Linked DNA regions of Homo sapiens. The protein of the gene in region 3 purifies or fractionates together with the protein of the main gene of each other region. This does not show direct contact. Each region holds a gene or a part of one and is shown on either strand. Other genes may lie near its edges.

Region 1 (3,500 bases), on a different chromosome or scaffold from region 3:
TTTTTAATGGGAAAGGCTATGTTAAAGAGAAATCCTTTTGTCCCATGGTCTCTCTTTTCTGTAAACTTTTCGTTTGTTTGTTTGTTTGTTTGTTTGTCTTGAAAGACAGGGTCTTGGTATAGCCATTGCACCCAGCCTGCTATAAACTTTCAGTTTTCTTTTCTCCAGAAAAGACAATCATGTATGTGTGTATGTGTATCTGTTACCTTCTTTCCTGTTGTATTCCAGTTCAACTTTTTTTTACTTAATATTTTTAAAAGTAATTATTTAGCCGGGCACAGTGGCTCACACCTGTAATCCCAGCACTTTGGGAGGCCGAGGCAGGCAGATCATGAGGTCAGGAGTTCGAGACTAGCCTGACCAACATGGCGAAACCCCGTCTCTACTAAAAATACCAAAATTAGCCGGACATGGTGGCAAGCGCCTGTAATCCCAGCTACTCAGGAGGCTAAGGCAGTAGAATTGTTTGAACCCAGGAGGCGAAGGTTGCAGTGAGCCGAGATTGCACCATTGCACTCCAGCCTGGGCGACAGAGGGAGACTGTCTCAAAAATATATATTTATCCAATTGGCTTTGATTTGTTGTCTTAGATCTTAAAATGTTGTCAGACCTTTGTTCTGATGCTGCAAAATCATCTGCATATTATATAGATGAAATCAACAAAGAGTTATGTTCTTTTATTCTATCACATTTAATATCGGTATGCCTTTGGATAAAGGAGAAAAAATCCATGTACCCATAGAGAAAGACAGGAGGGAAAGATGGGGAAAGATGAAGAGAAATTTAAAACCAGTCTTTCCTTAATCTAGATCTCCTTACTTATCCCAATGGTAGCATTTATGGAAAATTTGCTGCCTGTCAGTTACTTTAATACATTGTCATAAATGCTCAATAGAAACATAAAGAAGGTGTTATTTTCATTTCATGTATGAGGAAATGAGGCAAAGCAAGGCTGTAAACCCTAATTGATTTATCCGAATATAAATCTTCTCTGTTGGTTTGCCTGCTGCTACTCTCTCTCTGGCTGGTCATATGTTTCCCTGGGGAAAGATCATTAGACAAAACGTTAATGATTGCCTTGGCTACAGAAAAAACCAGGTTAGCCTTTGCCACTTTTTATCATTTGTGGATTCTGATCGCTCAAAAGCTTAGATTTTTATTATTCAAATCTAAATTCCAGTCTGTTCACATTCTGAGACTAATGTTCACATTTATAAATTTTATGCTCCCTGGACTGATAATATGTATATATGCTTCGATTCTTATTTAAAAAGTTAGTTTTTTCTGCATATAAATTAAGTAAAGCATATTCTTTTTCATTTATTTACTCTTAAATGCAAGTGACTTTTTCTTTTTTTTTTTTTAGACAGAGTCTCACTCTGTTGCCCAGGCTGGAGTGCAATGGCATGATCTCAGCTCACTGCAAACTCTGCCTCCCAGGTTCAAGCTATTCTCCTGCCTCAGCCTCCTAAGTAGCTGGGATTACAGGCATGCGCCACCACACCTGGCTAGTTTTCGTATTTTCAGTAGAGACAGGGTTTCACCATGTTGGCCAGGTGGTCTTGATCTCCTGATGTCATGATCCGCCCACCCCAGCTTCCCAAAGTGCTGGGATTACAGGCGTGAGCCACCACAGCCAGCCGCAAGTGACTTTTTCTAACTTCATTTCAGTGTTGCCTGTCAGCATTGATCTTGGTAATAGAATTCCCATTGTGTTTTATTAGTTTGAGTTATATAACATTTTTATTCTCTAATTTTTTTAGACAAAATATAGTCCCAATATATTAAACTTTGTCTTGGCCTCGTTGCTTTAAAATTTTTACAAGTCATTGCCAGTGACTCTCAAACTATTAATTGTTGATGTGCACAGTGACTGATGCCTGTAATCCCAACACTTTGGGAGGCAGAGGCTGGAGGATCACTTGAGCCCAGGAATTTGAGACCAGCCTGGGCAACATAACAAGACCACATCTCTAAAAAAAAATTAATTAACTGTACTTGAAATAAAATTGTATATTCCTCTATTTTAGTAGCTTTCTAGTCTTTTGAATTAGTTTTTTATTTTAACAAATCTGTTTAGGAGGCTATGGAAAGAATTTTAAAATGGCCTATAATGTCATTTGATATTTTGCACTGTAGGTGTAAAAATTGGAATTTTTTTCTGCTACTTGAATTTATAATTAAACATCCAGGTTCTATTTATCACATAGCCTCACCTACCTGGAACACCAGCAGAAAAGGGAAGTTTTGTTTTTTTTTTTGAGACAGAGTCTCGCTGTGCGCCCAGACTGGAATCCAGTGGCACCATCTTGGCTCACTGCAACGTCCCCCTCCTGAGTTCAAGCGAATCTCCTGCCTCAGCCTCCCGAGTAGATGGGATTACAAGCACACGCCACCACACCCAGCTGATTTTTGTATTTTTAGTAGAGATGAGGTTTCACCATTTTGGCCAGGCTAGTCTCGAACTCCTGACCTCAGGTGATCCACCTGCCTCATCCTCCCAGAGTGCTGAGATTACAGGCATGAGCTACTGTGCCCGGCCAAGGGAAGATAATTTTTTTTTTTTTTTTTTTTTTTTTTTTTTTTTTGAGACAGAGTTTCACTCTTGTTGCCCAGGCTGGAGTGCAATGGCGCAATCTCGGCTCACCACAACCTTCGCCTCCAGGGTTCAAGCGATTCTCCTGCCTCAGCCTCCCGAGTAGCTGGGATTACAGGCATGCACCACCACGCCCGGCTAATTTTGTATTTTTAGTAGAGACAGGGTTTCACCATGTTGGTCAGGCTGGTCTCAAACTCCTGACCTCAGGTGATCAGCCCACCTTGGCCTCCCAAAGTGCTGGGATTACAGGTGTGAGCCATCATGCCTGGCTGGGAAGATAATTTTTTTTCTTTTTTCTTTTTTCTTTTTTTTTTTTTTTTTGAGACAGAGTCTCGCTCTGTCGCCCAGGCTGGAGTGCAGTGGTGCAATCTCGGCTCACTGCACACTGCAAGCTCCGTCTCCTGGGTTCACGCCATTCTCCTGCCTTAGCCTCCTGAGTAGCTGGGACTACAGGCGCCCGCCACCAGGCCCGGCTAATTTTTTGTATTTTTAGTAGAGACGGGGTTTCACCGTGCTAGCCAGGATGGTGTCGATCTCCTGACCTCATGATCCGCCTGCCTCGGCCTCTCGAAGTGCTGGGATTACAGGCATGAGCCACTGCGCCTGGCGGGAAGATAATTTTTTAAAGGCTTCTGAGCAAGCAAAAAATTGATGTCAGAAAGTTCACATTCTAAAACTTATTCTAAAATTTTACTTACCAGAGAATCTCTTCAGTTTTCAGAGCCTATTTACCTATATTTTAAAACAGGTTTAAGAAGGTTGGCTAAGATTTTCTGCTACTCAGCAAGCTAGTAGCAGCAAGGAGCAATGTACATTTGTAGCAGTAAAAAGTAACTTATAACAGGGAGGGGATAGAAAAATCATAAAAAGCCGAAGTGAGACTTCAGAACTTAGGAGTTCA
Region 2 (3,500 bases), on a different chromosome or scaffold from region 3:
AGGAGTTCGAGACCAGCCTGGCCAACTTGGTGAAACCCCATCTCTACTAAAAATAGAAAAAATTAACCGGCCGTGGTGGTGCATGCCTGTAATCCCAGCTACAAGGGAGGCTGAGGCAGGAGAACTGCTTGAACCTGGGAGGCGGATGTTGCAGTAAGCCGAAATCACGCCATTGCACTCCAGCCCGGGCAACAAGAGGGATACTTCGTCTCAAAAAAAAAAAAAAGAGAGAGGAGAGAGAGAGGAAGGAAGGACAGAGAAAGAGAGAGAGACAGAGACAGGAAGAGACAGGCTCAGACGGGCTAAGAGACGGGAGATTCTTTCCAGAAGGAAAGGTATCCACACTGGGTTCCTGAAACTGCTGATGGCGACCCGGGAGGCGCAGACTGCGCGGTGGCCAACTGCCGGCCCTCCCACCTCCCCGCGTCCCCGGCACCCTGACCTGCGGGGCCGGCCGCTCTCGTCGGGGGGCAGGACGGTGACGCAGACCTTGGGCGCCGAGCGCAGGAGCTGGGCAGCGGCCTCGGGCCGGAGGCTGGGCAGAGTCTGGCCGCACACGCGCAGGAGGCGCGCCCCGGGCCGCAGCCCCGCCGTCTCGGCGAATGTGAAGCGCTCCACGTGCGTGACGAATCCCTCGGCGTCCACCTCGAAGCCCAGGCGGCCTTGACCGTCGCGGGGCAGCGCCAGCTCGCGGGTCTCGCAGCCACGGCTCACCAGCTGCGGACGGGGCGGGACGAGTGGGCGGGGCTGCCGGGAGGTGGGGCCGCCCCAGCGCCCGCCCCCTGGACTGCGTCCCAGGCCACACGGAACTTTCCACAGTCCCCGAGGGCCGCGTGTGCCACCGCCCGAGGGATGAAGACCAGAAGTCGCTTACCCGAGGGCACCAGTTCCGGCCTTGCCAAGCCCCGGGGCTGGCTCTGCCCTCCTCGACTTTCCCTTCCGCAGGAGTAGGGGACAAAGGCGGCGGGAGGGAGGGGTCCAAAGCAGGCTCCGCCCCGCCGCGCGCAGGGGCCCCAGTTTACCACTCCAGCTCACCTGCAGGCGCGCCACCACCTCGCCCACGGCTTGGCCGGGGGACCCGTCGAAGCGCAGCGTGATCGCCTCCCCGCGGCCGTGGTACAGGTCCAGCTGCTGCTCGGAGAAGGTCCAGGCCAGCACGTCGCGACAGGCGCAATTGAACACTACGCGGCCGTCGCGCGGCGCCACCAGCACCAGAGCCTCGGCCGAGATGCCCAGCAGGCAGGGCACCTCGATGCCTTCGGGGCCGCTCGCCTGAGCCCCGGCGGCGACCCGCGCCCCGGGCGCCGCGCGCACTCCCCACACCAGTGAGCCCGCTGCCTGCAGCTCGGCGCCTGGGCCCCGAGGGGCCGCCCGGCGCCTCCCACCCAGGGAGGGCAGGCCGAAGCGTGAAGCCGAGTCCAGCGACGTAGTGGTCACCTCGTTGGTGGCCAGGTCTTGCAGGTACTGCTGGCGGGTGCGCGTGGCCATGGCGTGGAACTGGCGCGCGTGGCCGGCCGCCTGCTCACCATTCAGCGCTTTGGCCAGCAGGAAGGCCCGGAAGTCGGCGTTGGCTGCGAAGGGGCCTCCGCCAGCAGGCAGAGCTGGCCCGAAGGCAGGGGTGTCCTGGGTGCGGCTCACGGCCACCCTGCGGGGAGGGAGGCGTTAGTGAGGGGCGGCAGGACTCCATGCCCACGGGAGACCTGGGACCACTCCGGTGCCCACCTGTAGGTGGTGTGTGGCGTGCAGGGTGTGTGTGCCCGCACCACTAGGAACACGTGCTGGAAGTGCGAGCGGATGGTGGTGGGGCAGAAGGGCTTGCTGCCAGGCTCCTGGAACACGATGGTCACAATGTCGTTGCCAATGTGGCGCTTCCGGAGGAGCTAGGGGTTGGATAGTAGGGGCTCGTGATGAGGTCTTCTGTGCCCCAAACCCCTCCTCATTCAGGCAGGAGAAAGCCAAGGCACCAATGGCTCCCCCACTGCCCCTGGTGAAGACCTAGGGTGTTTCTGTCTTTGGGAAGGGGCCACCAGAGGGGCGGGCTGTTGGGGCCAACAGAGCTCCGGCCAAAGCTCAAACGTCATGGGCCATGCAGGGCCCTCCATGGTTCCCGGAAGCCCCACCCCCACGTTGGTCCCCCTCACACCTGCTGCTGGTTATTAGGGGTGTAAGGCAGCATCGTGGACACGTGGAACATGATCTCGTGGTCCTGGTATGTGGTGTAGAGGGAGTGCGTGCCTGTGGAATCCGCTGTGGCCAGGAAGTTAGGGACACAGAAGGAGAAAACAAGGGGAATCTAAGTGGCTTGAACTTGCCATTCCTGCCTGTACACAGGAGCCTCTGTGCCCCAAACAGCAGGTGGACAACCAGTCATGCCACCAGCCAATGCCCAGCCAGCGAGATTCAAGGGCCTCAGCCCTGGGTGCCCCTCCTCCTCTCCCTCCACAGGCTCCAGCCCCATGCCAGAGTGAAGGGGGGTCAGGATGGGAGAGTTGAAATAGAATGAAGACAGAAATGAGAAGTGGTCTCAGAGGGAGGGCAGGGTCAGGTGTCCTAGGAGGACAGGTGTCACTCCAGGCCCAAGCATGTGTGGCATGCTGGGAAAGTGAAAAGCAGGCAGGGGGTGCTCAGTACAACACCTCCCAGGGGTCCTGGGGCCCCTTCCACCAGGGAGGTAGGGGCACCTCTCTTCCACGAGGCTGAGCTGCTGGAATGTGTTTGGTGGAGGGGTAGTGCCCCCAAACCACTTTAGCCCCAGCTCAGGCAGTAGGGTACTTGGGCCTTGAGGGACAGTCCCAGCCCCTCTTTTCAGCCCATAGCTTGGCCCTCATAGCCCTGACTCAGATCCTTAGCTCACCCAAAGAACTCTCCAGTCCCCAGCCCCAGGATTGTACGGACAAAGGAGTGACAAGGCAATTTGTGCTCACCCCTTCAGCACAGATCTGCTCCCACCCCTCCTGCCCCTGGGCCTCACTTTTGGTGTCTAGCTGGGCCCGGTAACTCTCAAAGCCTTTGAGCCGCACCACATCGCCCAGCAAGGTGAGAAACTGCATGAAGGCCGGTCCCGCCTCCTGGTTGTTGTACATCTCCTCCTCCGAGCCCTGGCCCGCCCGGCAGTACAGGATGCCCACCTTGCGTTGGAAGCTCAGCTGTGGGTGGGAGACAGAAGGCATAGGTCTCAGTCCCCTGCAGCCCCACCCCACCAGCTCTTAGGGAATGGATGGGACGCTGGCCTGGGGCTGAGCACCAGCCCTCTCTGAGCCACTTGTGCCCTTGCCTGTCAGGTGAGTACAGTCTGTTGTGCTCCTCGTGCTTGGGAGTGCACAGGTAGGAAGGGATGGGAGGAGGCTGGTTCCCATGTGGCAGTAGAGAAGGTGATTCACAGAAAGGACCCTTCCAATAAACATACACATTATCATCCTCCTTATCTCAAGGCTGGACTGTCCTCTGCACCCCTGAATCCAAGGCACCCCCACCCCAGCCCCTGCAGGCCAGGCACCACC
Region 3 (3,500 bases):
CTCTTGAACTGGGTGGCACTGAAACCCAGCCAGATCACCGGCACTGTCTTCACAGAGCTCAATGATGAGAAGGTGCTGCAGGTGAGTGGCCCTGCCTGGCTCCCCATGTGGGCACCGGAGGAAGAGGGGAGTTGCCTGGATCAGGCTGGGCCCTGGGGGTAGTCATTTTCTCCAAGCCATTTCACAGATGAGGAGGGGGAGGCCCAGGGATGGGCATTAAGCCAGACTGGACCAATACCTCTAACAGGCAGAATCCTGCTTTCCCAAACGCCTTCCCCTCCATCCCTGCAGAGGGGTGCCTCCCCTCACCCCACTTCTTCTGCCTCCAGGCCTCTTTCCTTCCACTTTCCCACAGGCAGCCAAGGCTTCAGCCCTCCTGATTCCACTTCCAGTTTTCCAAAAGGATGTATTCTCTTGCCTCTAGGCCATTGTTCCATTCTGTTTCCTCTGCCTGGAATGTCTTTTCCTTTCTCCTTTTTACCGCTGGCCAGTTCAGCTCTTCCTTTAGCTCTTGTGGCCCCAAGTCTGGATCCCCCGGGTTAGGCGGCCCTCCTCCTCCAGGCTCCCTGTGCTTCCCCTGTGCCTCCCATCAGGGCCTGTGGTCAGGCTGGGTTACTGGTTCTCTGCTGGTGGCCTGGTCAGGGCCAGATGGATGGCTCTAGCACTGTGCTCAGCCAGGAGAGTGCCAGACCCCAGCCCCACCCAGCTCCGCCTCCTCACCCTGTACCTTCAGGAGCTAGACATGAGTGATTTTGAGGAACAGTTCAAGACCAAGTCCCAAGGCCCCAGCCTGGACCTCAGCGCTCTCAAGAGTAAGGCAGCCCAGAAGGCCCCCAGCAAGGCGACACTCATTGAGGCCAACCGGGCCAAGAACTTGGCCATCACCCTGCGGAAGGGCAACCTGGGGGCCGAGCGCATCTGCCAAGCCATTGAGGCGTGAGTGTCCCTGTCCTGGGTTTGTGGGCAGTCCGGCCCCTTTGCTAGGCTGGGGTTGTCAGGCAGATCCTAGTAAAAGAGCCTCAATGGTGAGCTCTTTCATCAGGCTTCATACCAACCCTGGTCCAGGAAACTTGTCCCCATTTTAAGGTGGAGAAAACTCAGTCCATGCCTAAATTAGGATGTCCCACTTCCTCCCTGCCTCTTTGCCTAGCTGTGAGCACCCAGGCTGTGGGATTTACAGCCGGGCGTCCGCCGCTGACGTACGATGGGGACCCTGGCTGCCCAGTTCCCAGTTTCTCTGGATTCCCAGTTCCCAGTTTCTCTGGATTCCTACCTCTTGCTCTCTGAAGCTGTTGGCAAATAGAAAATACTGAAATTCATTTATTCAATCAAGGCAGGGGTAGCCCTGCTCCCAGGGACTGGTGGGTATGGATGATGCCCAATCTCCCCTCTCCTCCCTCTCACAGGTACGACCTGCAGGCTCTGGGCCTGGACTTCCTGGAGCTGCTGATGCGCTTCCTGCCCACAGAGTATGAGCGCAGCCTCATCACCCGCTTTGAGCGGGAGCAGCGGCCAATGGAGGAGCTGTCAGAGGAGGACCGCTTCATGCTATGCTTCAGCCGCATCCCGCGCCTGCCGGAGCGCATGACCACACTCACCTTCCTGGGCAACTTCCCGGACACAGCCCAGCTGCTCATGCCGGTGTGGGCGGAGCGGGCAGGGCGGTGTGACTTGGGAGGGGATGGGCAGGAGGCAACTCCCAGCCTGGGCTGCGGCAGGGAACCTGGGAGTACTTGAGCCTCCAGATGGAGGAGGCTCCAACTTATCTTACCTCCCCCATCCCACCCCCAGCAACTGAATGCCATCATTGCAGCCTCAATGTCCATCAAGTCCTCTGACAAACTCCGCCAGATCCTGGAGGTGAGGGGCCAGGAGGTGGGGCCCACCCTTGCCTGTTCTGGATAGTGTGAGAGGGAGACCCAGGCCCTGCTCACCTGCAATGCAACAAAGATAACATTCCCACTTCTCATGTACATGCTGAGAAGGACAAATCTAAGGGTGGTGGCGAGTGGGAAGGGGTACAGCAGCCGTGTCTGTAGCAGCTCACCTGGGACCCTGCCGGAGGGCTCAGTCCCCTTTAGCGTTGCTCTGTGAGCAACCTCACCTGCTCAGTGGAGGGCCCGGGAACCAGTAGAAATGGCTGGTGGACAGGCAGTGACCACACAGACTAGGAGGGGATGCTGGCAACAAGTTGTGGGTTGGACTAGCAGAGGACAAAATTTGGTGTGCCCATGGTGTTAACCGTGCACATGTGTGAGACCTGTGTGTACACACATGTACATGTGCTGTGGATCTGAGGGGCCTGTGCAGGAGTACAGTAGGGGCTGAGTGTGTGGGGCCTGCTCCTTGCCACCTCTTCTCCTCCTTGTGCAATATGCTTAAGCGGTGTCCTCAGCTCTGGCATTCTGCTGAGCCTTTCTCCTGCCTCTCCCAGATTGTCCTGGCCTTTGGCAACTACATGAACAGTAGCAAGCGTGGGGCAGCCTATGGCTTCCGGCTCCAGAGCCTGGATGCGGTGAGGAGGGGCCCCTGGCTTGGGGACTGGGGCTGGGGACTGGCTGGTGGCCTGTGGCTTACAATGGGTCCTTGTGCAGCTGTTGGAGATGAAGTCGACTGATCGCAAGCAGACGCTGCTGCACTACCTGGTGAAGGTCATTGCTGAGAAGTACCCGCAACTCACAGGCTTCCACAGCGACCTGCACTTCCTGGACAAGGCGGGCTCAGGTAGGAGACACACAGATCCTTGGGTGTGGGGAGGGGCCGTGGGCTGGGGTAGGTTGGGAGAAAGCTAGGGGGCCACAGTATATAATTGGTGGGAGGGCTGCCTCTCCGATTCACTGACCTGATACTGCCCCATCCCTGGCCCAGTGTCCCTGGACAGTGTCCTGGCGGACGTGCGCTCCCTGCAGCGAGGCCTAGAGTTGACACAGAGAGAGTTTGTGCGGCAGGATGACTGCATGGTGCTCAAGGAGTTCCTGAGGGCCAACTCGCCCACCATGGACAAGCTGCTGGCAGACAGCAAGACGGCTCAGGTGCGCCAGGGCTGGCCTCACCTGGAGGTGGGGCATGTAGGAGCACTAGATAGCACAGCCTGGAGGGGTGTGGCCGTAGCTGGGACCCCTTGGGGGGATGCAGCAGGAATGAGGGGCCACCCTGCCTGGGAGGAGCTCAGATCAGGTGGCCAGTGTCCTGAGGGGTACAGGCTGTGAGAGGTCTAAGCTGGGGGGCTGACAGGCTGTGCCCACAGGAGGCCTTTGAGTCTGTGGTGGAGTACTTCGGAGAGAACCCCAAGACCACATCCCCAGGCCTGTTCTTCTCCCTCTTTAGCCGCTTCATTAAGGCCTACAAGGTATTCGGGTCTGGGGCAGGCTGGGAGCCCTGTAGGGCACTGAAGCCTTTCTACTGGGCAGCGGAGGGGTGGGGCTGCTTCTGTTTAGGGGGTGGGTAGGGCAGTAGGGAGGGCCACCCTCATGGAGACTGCCTTGGCCCACAGAAAGCTG
Region 4 (3,500 bases), on a different chromosome or scaffold from region 3:
ACGGAGTGAGACTCCATCTCAAAAAAAAAAAAAAAAAAAAAAAGATCAGGAAGCTCTAGTGCACAGTCAGAGGAATCCAGCAGAATCACAGAATTAGGAAGTGCCAGACGCATAGGGACCCTAGAGATCTCCGGACTCCTCCTTCTATCACACAAAGGAGACAAGTGAGACCCAAGGGGATGGGAAGATGTATTCAAGGTCACACAGCCAGTGAAGGCAGAGCCAGGACCCAGATCATCTGAGATAAATTCCAGGCCCTTTCTTCACTGGATTAGGTGTTGCAAACTACAGCCCATGGGCCAAGGCTGACCTGACATTTATTTTTATATAGCTCCTGAACTTTATAAAAATAATTTTTGTATTTTCAAAGAGTTGTTAAAAAAAAAAAAGAATATGTGATAGAGATTGTATGTGGCCTGCAAAGCCAAAAACATTTACTATATGGCCCTTTATAGAAAAAGTTTGCTGGCTGGCATGCTGGCTCACACCTGTAAACCCAGCATTTTGGGAGGCTGAGGCAGGAGGACTGCTTGAGCCCAGAAATTCAAGACCAGCCTGAGCAACATAGTGAGACCTCATCTCTATACTAAAAATAAAAAAATTAGCCAGGGGTAGTGGTGCACACTTGTAGTCCCAGCTACTCAGTAGGCTGAGGCAGGAGAATCTGTTGAGCCCAGGAGGTTGAGGCTTCAGTGAGCCGTGTTCACACCACTGCACTCCAGCCTGAGTGACAGAGTAAGATCCTGTGTAAACAAAAACAAAAACAAAAACAAACGAACCACCACCCCAACTACTCCCCCAAAAAAAGAAAAGAATAAAGGTTTGCTGGGATAATAACTATATCCCCAGATTCTAACTCTCCCATAAGGACCCTGGAAGCCCTAGTCCCTCATTCCACCTTGCCCCAACACCAAATACACACCTGCTCTGCCTTCTTGGCCTTCTCCTTCCCTTGTTTGGGAGGCTCCTTTTCCTTTATAATTTCTTCTTCTTTATCCTCCTCTTCATTGTCCAGAGCAGCGAATTTATTTTGAGGCTAATAGGGAAAAGACAGGTCTGATGAAATGTTTTTTTTTTTTTTCTTTTTTTTTTTTTGAGACGGAGTCTCGCTCTGTCACCCAGGCTGGAGTGCAGTGGCGCAATCTCGGCTCACTGCAAGCTCCACCTCCCGGGTTCACGCCATTCTCCTGCCTCAGCCTCCCGAGTAGCTGGGACTACAGGCGCCCGCCACCACGCCCGGCTAATTTTTTTTGTATTTTTAGTAGAGACGGGGTTTTACCGTGTTACCAGGATGGTCTCGATCTCCTGACCTCGTGATCCGCCCACCTCGGCCTCCCAAAGTGCTGGGATTACAGGCGTGAGCCACCGCGCCCAGCCCTGATGAAATGTTTTAATTCCTGGGCCCCAATACCTCCTCCTGCTAGTTACTCTCTCACCTTAGCCTTCCCTTTTGACTTCTCTTCCTTTCCCTTTTTGCCCTTGAGTGCAGGCTGCTGTTCCTCAGATACGGCCTGGAGGAGACACACATACACATTACACACATACATACAAATTATTGTGCTACTTTGCTGTGTAATAAGCATTTCTAGAGAGTCTACTGTGTTAACCATACACATGCTCCTCCATTTACGACAGGTTGCATCCCGATAAACCCACCAGAAACTTAAATAAAAAATGATAGTTCTTGGCCGGGCGTGGTGGCTCACACCTGTAATCCCAGCACTTTGGGAGGCCAAGGCAGGTGGATCACAAGGTCAAGAGATCGAGACCATCCTGGTCAACATGGTGAAACCCTGTCTCTACTAAAAACACAAAAATTAGCTGGGCGTGGTGGCACGTGCCTGTAATCTCAGCTACTCAGGAAGCTGAGGCAGGAGAATCACTTGAACCCGGGAGGCGGAGGTTGCAGTGAGCCAGGATTACGCCACTGCACTCCAGCCTGGCAACAGAGTGAGACTCCGTCTCAAAAAAAAAAAAAAAAAAAAATAGTTCCAACTTATGATGGGTTTATCTGGATATAATCCCATCATGAGTTGAGGAGTACCCTAAATGAGTATGACTTTCACACCATCATAAAGTAGAAAAATCGTACACCGAAGCAGAAGTTGGAGACCATCTGTATTGAGTGCTGCTGACGAAAAATGAGACCCAGAAAAACCCTACCCTCCAGCTTCAGACTAGATAGCGAAGAGATAACTAGGGAACGTCAGCAAGGCTAAGGATTATAAGTCAGGCAAGTGCGCCACCAGAGTGAGTGGCACTAGCACTGGAGGCTTTCTCAAGAGCTCAAATGGACATGGACTAAGATGCACACGCAGAAGAGTCACAAGTAGAAGAGCAAGGACCTGGGGCTTTGTTTCAGGTTCTGTGCTTAAAGCAACAGAATCACTGTAGATTTCTGAGTGATAAAAATGGCATGGTTTTTTTTGTTGTTTTTTTTTTGAGACTGAGTCTTGCTCTGTTGCCCAGGCTGGAGTGCAGTGCCTCAATCTCAGCTCACTGCAAATTCCACCTCCCAAGTTCAAGTGATTCTCCTGCCTCAGCCTTCCAAGTAGCTGGGATTACAGGCGCACGCCACCACGCCTGGCTAATTTTTGTATTTTTAGTAGAGATGAGGTTTCGCCATGTTGGTCAGGCTGGTCTCGATCTCTTGACCTCGTGATTCGCCCACCTCGGCCTCCCAAAGTGCTGGGATTACAGGCGTGACCCACTGTGCCCAGCCTGGGCATGTATTCTAAAAAGATGATTTTAACAGTATAAGTAAGACAGACCGAGAAGAGCTAGTTTAAAAGCGGGAAATTACTCCACCATGGCCAGAAGGTGCTAAATGGAGTGAGAGTGACTGATCGAGCCACCACTGTCACCTTATTGATCCGATTCTTCTCCGGCTTGGCAGGCTTAGGAGGATGTTTTTCTTCCTCCTCCTCTTCCTCACTCTGATCCTGAATCAGGGCTGCAAAAACATTACCACCCTAGAGAATGAAAGGGCCACAGAAGTCAGTAGGATGGTCAAGGTTGCATCCTTGGAGTCTCCGTTTACCACACAGATGGCTTACCTTGGTTTTCTTCCCTCCGCGGGGTTTTGGGGCGGGTACTGAAATGACAGGGGGAGAACATGAGATAGGAAAGAATTACAATGTCTGGCCCCCCAATTGAATCCAACTTGAAGATCAGGGTATGAGGTATCACTCTCCATGACTCATGGATTCCAGGTACCCATTCCCCCTCAGGTCATTTACCTTCATCCTCCTCATCACTGGTTGGCACTGAGAGCTTCTTAAGACGCTCCATGAGCTCTTTCTCTTCTCCATCATCATCCACATCCTTCTTCCGCCTGCCTTTTCGGGTATCTCGCTTTTTTTTTTGCTGCTGAGAGCAAAAGAACAGTGAGAAAATGAAGCCCAGGCCCCTGCTGTATTTCTGCCTCACAGAGGGTTCCCCATCAGCTGAATGGAGCAACATGGGCTGGAAAGGGGTTGGTGGAACCCAGATGCCTCCCA

The links. The genes of interacting proteins can lie anywhere in the genome.
Region 1: the proteins of FMNL1 (region 3) and TIA1 purify together in Homo sapiens (affinity purification with mass spectrometry, with the first as the bait; one large-scale study listed by BioGRID). This does not show direct contact.
Region 2: the proteins of FMNL1 (region 3) and SIPA1 purify together in Homo sapiens (affinity purification with mass spectrometry, with the first as the bait; one large-scale study listed by BioGRID). This does not show direct contact.
Region 4: the proteins of FMNL1 (region 3) and ABCF1 purify together in Homo sapiens (affinity purification with mass spectrometry, with the first as the bait; one large-scale study listed by BioGRID). This does not show direct contact.

The regions. Positions count from the first base shown.
Region 1 is NC_000002.12:70,231,629-70,235,128, reverse strand, and holds part of TIA1 (cytotoxic granule associated RNA binding protein TIA1), read left to right. Parts: intron 1-3,500. UniProt on the Homo sapiens protein: RNA-binding protein involved in the regulation of alternative pre-RNA splicing and mRNA translation by binding to uridine-rich (U-rich) RNA sequences.
Region 2 is NC_000011.10:65,644,601-65,648,100, reverse strand, and holds part of SIPA1 (signal-induced proliferation-associated protein 1), read right to left. Parts: intron 3,147-3,500; coding exon 2,972-3,146; intron 2,248-2,971; coding exon 2,144-2,247; intron 1,881-2,143; coding exon 1,723-1,880; intron 1,646-1,722; coding exon 1,036-1,645; intron 718-1,035; coding exon 443-717; intron 1-442. UniProt on the Homo sapiens protein: GTPase activator for the nuclear Ras-related regulatory proteins Rap1 and Rap2 in vitro, converting them to the putatively inactive GDP-bound state. Affects cell cycle progression.
Region 3 is NC_000017.11:45,242,385-45,245,884, forward strand, and holds part of FMNL1 (formin-like protein 1), read left to right. Parts: coding exon 1-81; intron 82-733; coding exon 734-936; intron 937-1,406; coding exon 1,407-1,641; intron 1,642-1,791; coding exon 1,792-1,860; intron 1,861-2,434; coding exon 2,435-2,515; intron 2,516-2,594; coding exon 2,595-2,724; intron 2,725-2,868; coding exon 2,869-3,032; intron 3,033-3,247; coding exon 3,248-3,349; intron 3,350-3,493; coding exon 3,494-3,500. UniProt on the Homo sapiens protein: May play a role in the control of cell motility and survival of macrophages. Plays a role in the regulation of cell morphology and cytoskeletal organization. Required in the cortical actin filament dynamics and cell shape.
Region 4 is NC_000006.12:30,577,942-30,581,441, reverse strand, and holds part of ABCF1 (ATP-binding cassette sub-family F member 1), read right to left. Parts: intron 3,367-3,500; coding exon 3,240-3,366; intron 3,095-3,239; coding exon 3,057-3,094; intron 2,973-3,056; coding exon 2,865-2,972; intron 1,512-2,864; coding exon 1,437-1,511; intron 1,037-1,436; coding exon 923-1,036; intron 1-922. UniProt on the Homo sapiens protein: Isoform 2 is required for efficient Cap- and IRES-mediated mRNA translation initiation. Isoform 2 is not involved in the ribosome biogenesis.